Linked DNA regions of Homo sapiens: regions 2 and 3 are each reported to be linked to region 1. The links are microRNA targets in miRTarBase. Many come from high-throughput screens and were not tested one by one. Region 1 holds a microRNA gene; each other region holds the end of a gene's coding sequence.

Region 1 (3,000 bases):
TTGTTAGCTGCATAGTTTGGTCTGGCTATAGACTTTCCAAGTTCTGAAGGTAAAACTGACATCAAGTTCTTCCCATCTGGTCTACTGAGTGCACCCTGCAACCTTAGCCTAGGCACTTTGGCACCTTCTGTTTTAGCGGCTGTCTCTGTCCATGGTGGGCTTGGTGTCTTGTTGCTTCTGTTCCTCTGAGTGAAGTGTTCAAAGCCTCAGACTCCTGAGGCTCAGCTCTGTGCCCTGGCCTTCGAGGCTTGTCACTTCTGCCGATATAAGAAGTGAAATATAGGTCAGCCTCACAGATCCCAGTGTTAAAAATAAAAGCTTCATCCCCAGGCTCTGCAGGTCTGTAGATTGGCATGGGTTCCCCCACTTTCCAGCAACCACTCTTCTAAATTGCTTCTTGGAGCTTAGTACTGATGCCATCCGCTATGCAAGAGGGAACCTGAAAATAGAAGAGGAGCTGAGATCGTCTCCCTTGGCAAATGCCATTCCAAAATGTGAAGATTGCCTGAATGGAAATTGTAAATAGCAGCACTGAGCAGGTTTCCTCCCTGTCGGGTTAGGAGGGTGGGCTGCTGGTGAGGGGAGGGTGGGTCCTGGGGGGAGCCTGGAAGGAGTCCCTCTCCCTCTTAGGACCACCCAGACCCCTCCTGTGGCAGCCAAGTGACCACGCACTGAGATTCCTAAGTATTTTGATGAAAGGACTTCTCCTCCCTCTCTCTGCTTTCCCATTCTTAGTCCTTGCATTTGAGCTTTCTCAGAAGATTTAGCTGCTTTTCTGTGATATGAAAACTGAGGAGGTTGAAAAGCAGGGCCTTTGAATTTATTTTTAGTATCTGCACATTTCTCTCTTCCTGCATTCTCTCACTTTCTTCTCTCCCTTCTCCTTTCTCTTCTGATTTCCCGCTTTCTCTCCCTGCACTGTCATTCTCTTTTGCCCTTCTTAACTCCTGCAAAACGGGGAGATAAGTTTTCCTCCACATAAGAAGCCAGGGCCTCTGAGAAGCTTGTCTTTGAACAGATGCCTCAGCCTTGCCCCTTTCTCAGGTCTCATTTTTCGGGCGAGTCTGTGCTTGACAAGAGACTGCGTTATCTTGTGGGAGGACCCTAAGGAGCCAGGGTACTTGACATTTAAAGCTTTTCATAAACAGTGTCTTCAGTGCTTGGCAAACCTTGAACCCTCCCAGCTGGCAGCAACGAGGCTTTCTCATCAGGACTGGCTCAGCCTCGGATGTGACATTTTCCCAGGGCCTCAAGGAAATGGAATACGCCCTGTCTGCCTTTTAATCCCTCTCAGTTGGATTTTCATAGACTTCTGTCAGGGGGGTATGTGCTGGCTGCTTTTCCTATAAACTGGAGTCAGGGGAAAAGGGGAAGATGGCTGAGGGGGGAGGCAAATATGGATGCATTTAATACACATTTGGCAGGTCAAGCAGAAATATCATTGGTTACATAGTTTTTTGATGCTATCCTCCAGGCCAAATTAAATGACTTCTTTGGGAGTAGAGAAGGGCTTAAAAACAGTGATTTGGGTGACACCCTATGAACATTCTAACCTGAAACCCTTCCCCGCAGGTGACTCAGCCCACAAAGAGCCACACTCCTGGCAGATGTGGGAAATGGACACTATCACTGTCAGAGTCCACCCGCGTGACTCTGGGGCGCACTGCTTTGTGCCTTTAAATTCAGCCCTGCCACTGGCTTATGTCATGACCTTGGGCTACTCAGGCTGTCTGCACAATGAGCCAGTTGGACAGGAGCAGTGCCACTCAACTCTGGCCATACACAGAACCCCCCACCCCCACCCCAGGGAGCTTTTAACACACATAGCCATCTAGAGAATGTGGATTAATTTGGTCTCAGGTGAGGCTTGGGTGGCTGTAAAAGCTCCCCAGGTAACTCTCACATGAAGTAGGTGAGACATGCTCCCTAGACACATGTCTCTCAAACTGGAATGTGCACAGGAATCACATAGGATCTTGCTAAAATGCAGACTCCAGTCCTGTGGTTTTCAGTGGGGCTGGGGATTCTTCTCTTCCCATGTGCTCCTGGGCAAACTGATGGTGTGGGTCCCCAGAACACACTCTGCACAGCCAAAGTCTGGATGGTCTTTAAGGTCCCTGCAGTTCCTTACTGAGTTTTCTTGGTGAGGAGAGGGCAGGGAATTAAGTAAAAGATATATTTTAATGGTAGCAAAGAGGACCTCCCTTTTATCACTGGGGTAAAGTCATGTCATTTTTGGGAAAATGTGATGCAGTATTTGGTGGGTAGGATTCAATTTGTATCCATTTTCAACACTGGAGTAAGTTTATTTAGGGGGAAAAAGGGAAACAGATGTAGCTGTGTGTGTGAAGAATGGGGAAGAGAGAGAAGCGTGAAAGAACTGAGTGGATGTGTGTGTGCTCACAGGGCGAGGATTCCATGCAAACAAATACATAGGCTTCTCCAGGTCCAGTTTTGGTGAGGGGACAGGAAAAGGGACAGATATTGTTCAGCTGGGATTTAAGGTGAAGATCATGCTCCCTGGAACAACCCAAAGGCTGGAAGATTCCATCTCCTCAGCCCCATCTCTTTCTGGTGCTAAGCAGCCATTTGTTCCAATTATCCTTGAATTATAGTGACAGCTTTTGGTTTATGCAGGCCTTCAAATCATCCTAACCTAGTAGAAGAAGTAAAATGATGCCTTTATTGACAAGAACATTTCAGCTGGCTGGTTTTAAAAGACTCTCTTCTTCCCACCTATTCCCACGTCCCTGTGCTTCCACCTCACTAAGAGCCACAGACACCATTTTGGAGTGTCAAGATCTTGCCTGATTTTGCATATATATATATATATATAATTTTTTAAAATTCAAGGTCAACCTTGAGAGATATTGCTTGTATTCTGCCTTCTGTTTTCCCTAATCCTTATAGAACTACAAATTCCCATACATGAGCAGATTTTCCTGGTTTAAAATTATATTTAACTAAAGTTAAATACTTCAGGCCTTGTGATGGTGATTC
Region 2 (3,355 bases), not on the chromosome of region 1:
AAATATGTCATTGGTGGCTTCTCTCCCAGGTGGGCCAAGGAATGCTGGATATGTGCTAGGCTTTAAACCTAATCCAAATCGAGGTGTGGGTCCATAGGCAACAATAGTTCCTGTTCTGCACCCCCTCAGTAGCCTGTGAGGACTGGACTAGTTTTGTATTTTCTGAAACTTTAGAGAACATCTCTCTATCTTCCTGTTCTAGGATTGATACTGCCAAATGGAAACATTAACTGGAACTGCCCATGCCTTGGGGGAATGGCCAGCGGTCCCTGTGGAGAACAGTTTAAGTCAGCCTTTTCCTGCTTCCACTATAGCACGGAGGAGATCAAGGGGTCAGACTGTGTAGACCAGTTCCGGGCCATGCAGGAATGCATGCAGAAATACCCAGACCTCTATCCCCAAGAGGATGAGGATGAGGAAGAGGAAAGAGAGAAGAAGCCAGCAGAACAAGCAGAAGAAACAGCTCCCATTGAGGCCACTGCAACCAAAGAAGAGGAGGGATCAAGTTAATGAAGGCCACAAGGCACTGGGCACCAGTCCTTTTGGAGTGGACCTTTTGCAAAAGGCCTTGTCATCACCTTCCAAGAAAGTTTCCTTCTGTTGTCCTGTGCATTATAATATACAAAATAACTTATTTTGATGATCAGAGGTCTTGAGGTCTTGACATCTTGACATATACACTGAAAAAAATGGGGGTTGTATGTATGTGTGTCCTACCCAAACCTGTGGCCGCCACTTTTGAATTCTCAGATTGCCCTGAATTTTGCCACTTTTAAATAATGTGCTGAATAAGCTCAGCAACTAAAAACCATTACCCAAGAACGTTTCTTGTGAGTGAGCTGATTTATTCTGATTCATTATATTCCTTTTGGTAGATTTTATACCCCTTGGGGAAATAATACAACAAAAACATCTCTTAAAAATGCTGGGATGGGGCCATATCTACTAGCAGAGGCCAGATGGTCAGATATGATTTCTGCAAACCCATCTTGACCTTGAGTATGTGAAGGGGTACTGTACTTTATTCCTGATACATTTTGGTTTCCATGTAGGTGTTGAGCTCCTGGTTTTCTGTGTTTGGATGATGAAGATTTGGACCCTTCCATTCATAATCCCTTTCTAAGTGAAGGGAGAGGCTGGCTTGGCTGTTCCTTGTTATTCCGAAAGCCCTGGTTTGGGGCCCATGTTCACACTGGCTCTCAGTCTAGTCAGGTGCAATGTTCTTGAGAGGTGGGGACCTAATTATTACCAGAGTAGCAGCAAGAGAGGAAACGTTGTGAATTAAGTATTCAATTAAAAGGAAACATGATTTCTACCTGATTTTGAATGTGTCCTTTGTTTTCACTAGTTAAAAATGTTTTCTATATAAAAAAGTATAAATTATGAACAATTCAATTGAAATTCCTCTTGAAAGATATTGGTAAACCAATTTGAGTCCGTTAAAATTTTCTGTGTTGAGTTCAAAGGAAGCTTACTTATTTTATATGTGAGCAGATGCCTTCACACAGACATTACAGTTAGTCTATGAGGTGGGGAAGGCTCTTCCTGTTTGAAAATAGATTAACTTGCCTAAGGTAACTGCTAGACAGTTTTCAGGCTGTGGCATAGTAATGCCTCATTTGTCTCAAATGTGTTAAGTTATTTATGTAAAAAATTGCCTTAAAACTTAATAGCTTGAAACGAGGAATCTGGGCATGGCTTACCTGGGTTCTCTGGCTCAGTGTCTCATGAGGCTATGATACTTGTAGTCATCTCAAGGTGGGACAGGCCTTTCAAGATCGCTCGAAGTGGTTTCTGGGAGGGTTCAGTGGGTTGAATCTTGTGGGCTGTGGATTGAGGGCCTCAGTGCCTTACTGGCTGTTGGCCAGACACCTCCTTCAGTTCCTTGCCACATGGCCTTTGCCTTAAAGGGTCAGCTCACAACATGGGAGGTGGCTTCCATCAGAGCAAGCGAGAGAGCAAGATGGATGCCAGAGCCTTTTCATCACCTAATCTCAAAACGGACATTCCATAACTTTACCATAGTCTATTTGTTTGTTAGAAGTGAGACACAGCCCACACTCAAGGAGAGGGACACAAGAATACGAGTAACAGGAAGCTGCCTGCCACACTGGAGAATGAGGCGCCACCATGTTAAAGCTTGAAGGCATGGTTAAAATGCAAGGATTTGTGGTTGGGAGGTGTATGGAGGTAGAGAACTGCTTTCTATATCCAGAGCTTTTTTAAACCTTGCTTGATTAGGAGCTAAGAACCTGGAGCTGGCCAAGCATGGAAGGCATGACAGACCCTAACGACTTCTTTTAACAGAGTTTTGCACATTTAAAAACGATATTTCTTTTGTTAAAATTTTGGTCACAATCAAGGTGTTACTGTTTTGTGACCATGTCATGTACCCCATTTATTTGATGCATTCATGGAATCTACAGTTCCAAGCCCTAGGGACATAGAGTGATTCATTCATGGTACTGCCCATGAAGCTACAATCTAGCCAGGAAGTCAACATTTACTAGAAAGCAGAAAGGAATGGATGAGTGTTACATAATGGTGCTGGATTTTCAGGGCTGGGTTCTTCCAGCCATGGTAACTTACAGCAGAGATTCTCGAACTGTCTGCCCAACTCGACTTGGGTTAGGCAAAAGGTTCCATCCTTTTCCACTTATCACTGGAAAAACAAATTGGTGATAAGGAATTGGCACCGTATAAGCAATTGGAAGTGGGTGGAGATTATGCTTTACTACAAGGGGTTTGGATAATTCATATTTAAGTTGCTGTGTATCTTTAAATGTAAGAACACCAATAGATCAAAGAGTTAATGATTCAGATAAATGCAAGTTGATGATTTTTAAAGAACAGCAATAATTGAAACAAAGGGCTGCTCAAAATAACACTGATTTGGAAATGCAATTACCAACACAATGTTTTATGTCTGTTTTGTTTTGTTGTGTTGTGTTTTAAGAGAGTTTCGCTGTGTTGTCCAGGCTGGAGTGCAGTGGCATAATCATGGCTCACTGCAGGCTCAACCTCCTGGGCTCAAGCGATCCTCCTGCCTTAGCCTACCAAAGCGCTGGAATGCTCAGCCTGTTTTGTATTTTTGTGTTATAGGCAAGTGCAGCATATCAGCCAAGCTTCTTAATAGAACACTACATTCTAGTCCTTAGTTCTAGGACTGTACAGATTTTAACATGTATTTATTTTAGAAACAGGGTCTCGCTCTGTTGCCTAGGCTGGAGTGCAGTGGCACAATCATAGCTCACTGCAGCCCTGGACTCCTGGGCTCAAACGATTCTCCCACCTCAGCCTCCCAAGTAGCTGAGACTATAGGCGTGCTCCACCATGACTGGCTAAGTTTTTATTT
Region 3 (3,355 bases), not on the chromosome of region 1:
CCGCCAATAAATAATTTCATTTTTGTTAACATTGCTAATAGGGCAGTGCTGTTTAACCAGCCAATAATATAGATTGTGGGCATGATGAAAACTGTGTAATTTAAAGGCAAAGAACTTTCCTTTTCTCAAGTGACAGAAACGTCCATTTTGCTAATCTTCAAAGAGCCCACCTTCGCATCTCTGGTAGCCAGCTGGGTTTAAAGTGCATCAAGACTCAATGAAGACCCTGTCAAAATGTAAGTGTATACATATGTGTCTGTATATATACACATATAATGGCTAAAGACCCAACCTACTATTGATTATAAAATGTTTAATTAGAATCATTTTTGTAGTCCTTAAAATGAAATTTTTTTTGGCATAAATAATACTTTAGGACTTGGTGATAACTACATTCCCATGAAAATATTTGAGTGAGAATTAGTGTACCTAGTCTGCTGCTTTAAAAAGTAAATGTACGGCTGGGCGTGGTGGCTCACGCCTGTAATCCCAGCACTTTGGGGAGGCAGAGGCGGGCAAATCACGAGGTCAAGAGTTTGAGACCAGCCTAGCCAACATGGTGAAACCCCGTCTCTACTAAAAATACAAAAATTAGCCAGGTGTGGTGGCGGGTGTCTGTAGTCCCAGCTACTCGGGAGGCTGAGGCAGGGGCATCACTTGCACCTGGGAGGTGGAGGTTGCAGTGAGCTGAAATCGCGCCACTGCACTCCAGCCTGGTGACAGCGTGAGACTCCATCTCAAAAACAAACAAACAAACAAACAAAAAGCAAATGTACTACTCACAAATGAGAAATTGAAGCTTGTTACATTCATGAACAGTACTAACTAAACAAAGAGGTTTTAGAATACATAAACATAATATTTATGGCTATCAATAGAAGATCCAAATTAATGAATTTTCTAAAGTTCTTTCTGTATATGGAACTAAGTCCAAATTCAGAAATAGTTTAAGGACACATGTAATCTGTAACTTGAGATACACTAAAATATCAGGTGACAGAATAAAAGACGCAATGTGTATCAAAGTTGTTTATAAGTATAGTTAAACATAGGGAGATGTGTCCCTATTTAAACATATACGTGGTATGCCATGGGACAAGTATATAATCTAATAAATTCTCTCTCTTTCCTCTCCAGCTGAAACATATAGCACTTTGTATTTTATCTCTTCTGCTACTTCTCTCAAACAAACAAGCACCTGTCTGCCATATCCCCACCACGAGTTTATCATTTCCCTTTAATGTTCTCAGTAAGTTAAAATATGAATACTGAAAAACATGCTCAAAGCTAGAAAAGACAACAATGGGATCAAACAAACTTAAAACCCTCAGAGATGAGAGCAAGACTCCCTTCAACTGAGGCCAAAATAGCCAGGACCTGAGGAAGAACTGAGAAGAGAAGTTAGGTAACTCTCTACAGGCAGTAAGCAGAAGTAACTGTCCACAGGCAGTAACAGCTGAGAGGCTGTAATGGAATCCAGATGCAATGGCAGATAAAATAAAACTGGTGCTCGAGGACATCCCTGGGTACTAACAAGGATACATATTCACAAGTGCAATGGTGGAATCACTGGAAATTTACATGAGAGGCTTTGTGGAATCACTAAAACTTTAGTTGAGAGGATTTGGGCATTTACAGTCTACACATCTAGAAGAACTCTATAAGCCGGGTATGTCTCAGCCTGAGTTTACGCTATCCTAAGGCAAAGAGTATACTCTTCTGCCTTGCCGATTACCTTCTTCCTACTCTTGTAGCTAAAAGTGACGTAAATTCTGAAATGAAATAAAATGTTACTCTTATTTGTCAAACAGTAATCCCAGAAGTCACCTAGGCAAATCAAGATTCCACTGTTAAACCTAGTGGCTAATGTCTCCAATTTATTCAGGTGTACTGTTTATACTCATGCTACTAATGGGTTAACAGTTGTCTACTGATATTCCATTAATAGTATAATATTATACATCAAATGTGATGTTACCTTGATCATGTTGTTGTTGTTGTTTTTTCCCACAGCAGAAAAAATGGTACAAACCTAGAGTTTCCAACCACTGGAATTTAGTTATTTTAACAATCCATTATGACCTCAGGCACTTTTGGCAACCATGGTGCAATGAATTGAATCCAATGGTATAAACTAAACAACTGAACTGCTCCAATACCAGGAAGCAAATAGCTACGAGCATTTTTTCTTTACATTTAACAGCAGACCTCTTTAATAGTCTCCTGATGTTCACCGAGAATATATAGTAAGATTCATATTTGAAAAATAGCAAGAAAAATTGTGTAAGTTTGAATCATGTTTCCACCCATCAATCTTGCATTGGTTACCAAGAAAACATATCTCCTTACCATTCAAAGCTCTATTTTCATAGATGTAAGAAGACAAGATCCACTTTGTTCATGGTGGCTGCCAAAAACTAACCAAAGGCTTTCTGTGGCTATTTAACCTTTGAGAAACCAAACAGCTATAAATTTCATCAGTTATTTAAAGACTTATTTCTTAATAGGTAAACTATAGCAAATTCAAAATAACCTACTTTTGTGAAAAAAAGTTTGATGAAATGAGCAGAATGCTTGCAGTGAGACTGCAAATAATGCTGCATCTACTAAATCTCTCATATCAGACTTCTCGTACAGTTGATAAAACAGACTATTTTATATGCACAGGAGTCCTCAATGATAGTGATCACCATATATCCCTTCATGAATTTTTCAAAAATGATTACTACATGGATTCCACACCACAAAACAAAACCATGCTTCAACTACTTCCCTCAAACATTACAAAACTAATTTCCTATTTTCAATATTGTAAAAATAGACTTGTCTTCTCCAAAGGATCTTGCTGTCCATACTGATGGATCTGTGTGTTCCCTCTTATCACTGGCCCTAAACACATAAATTATCTTCATCATTCCTTAAGTCCAATCTTACATAAAGTTGCATAATGCATGGAGTAAAAGAGGAATGAAGACAAAGCATGGAAGCCTATATAAATGTGCTGACCCAAAAGCAATCACACCAACAGCCAGAGGAAGTGGAAATTGTGAAGTAGTCTTCAACAATTTACTGTAAAGAGACAGAGAAATATACATTACTTATGTGAACTACATTGTGAGCCAAAATTATATCAATCTTTTATACAGTTTTGGAAAGATAAATATTCTAAGTGAATTTAAATGAATTTTTAATGATATGAATTTACCTATTCATAATTTCTTTTTTTATTTTTGAGATGGAGTCTCACTCTGTTGCCCAGGCTGGAGTGCAGTGGCGCAATCTCGGCTCACTGCAAGCTCCGCCTCCCGGGTTCATGCCATTCTCCTGCCTCAGCCTCCCGAGTAGCTGGGACTAC

The links. Region 1 holds the annotated microRNA hsa-miR-575 (GAGCCAGUUGGACAGGAGC, at 1,740-1,758, shown strand). A microRNA usually pairs through its seed, bases 2 to 8, with sites in the 3' UTR of a target mRNA and lowers its output. Matches are read on the target gene's strand: a 7mer-m8 pairs with bases 2 to 8, a 7mer-A1 pairs with bases 2 to 7 and ends in A, and an 8mer does both.
Region 2: the mRNA of CHCHD4 is a reported target of hsa-miR-575. Seed matches in the 3' UTR shown: 7mer-m8 at 1,192-1,198.
Region 3: the mRNA of PGAP1 is a reported target of hsa-miR-575. Seed matches in the 3' UTR shown: 7mer-A1 at 1,368-1,374, 7mer-A1 at 593-599 and 7mer-A1 at 185-191.

What each region holds. Positions count from the first base shown.
Region 1 is chr4:82,752,110-82,755,109 of GRCh38, reverse strand. MIR575 (microRNA 575) reads left to right here and starts at 1,680; the gene lies at 1,680-1,773. All of the region lies in intron 1 of SCD5 (stearoyl-CoA desaturase 5), which reads left to right.
Region 2 is chr3:14,110,042-14,113,396 of GRCh38, reverse strand. It overlaps CHCHD4 (coiled-coil-helix-coiled-coil-helix domain containing 4), which reads left to right. Exons shown (of 3, transcript NM_001098502.2): 3 at 203-1,320. The coding sequence ends at 510. Among named protein-coding and RNA genes, the nearest start is that of CHCHD4, 13 kb to the left of the region's middle.
Region 3 is chr2:196,838,304-196,841,658 of GRCh38, forward strand. PGAP1 (post-GPI attachment to proteins inositol deacylase 1) reads right to left here. Exons shown (of 27, transcript NM_024989.4): 27 at 1-3,069. The coding sequence ends at 2,931. Among named protein-coding and RNA genes, the nearest start is that of C2orf66, 31 kb to the left of the region's middle.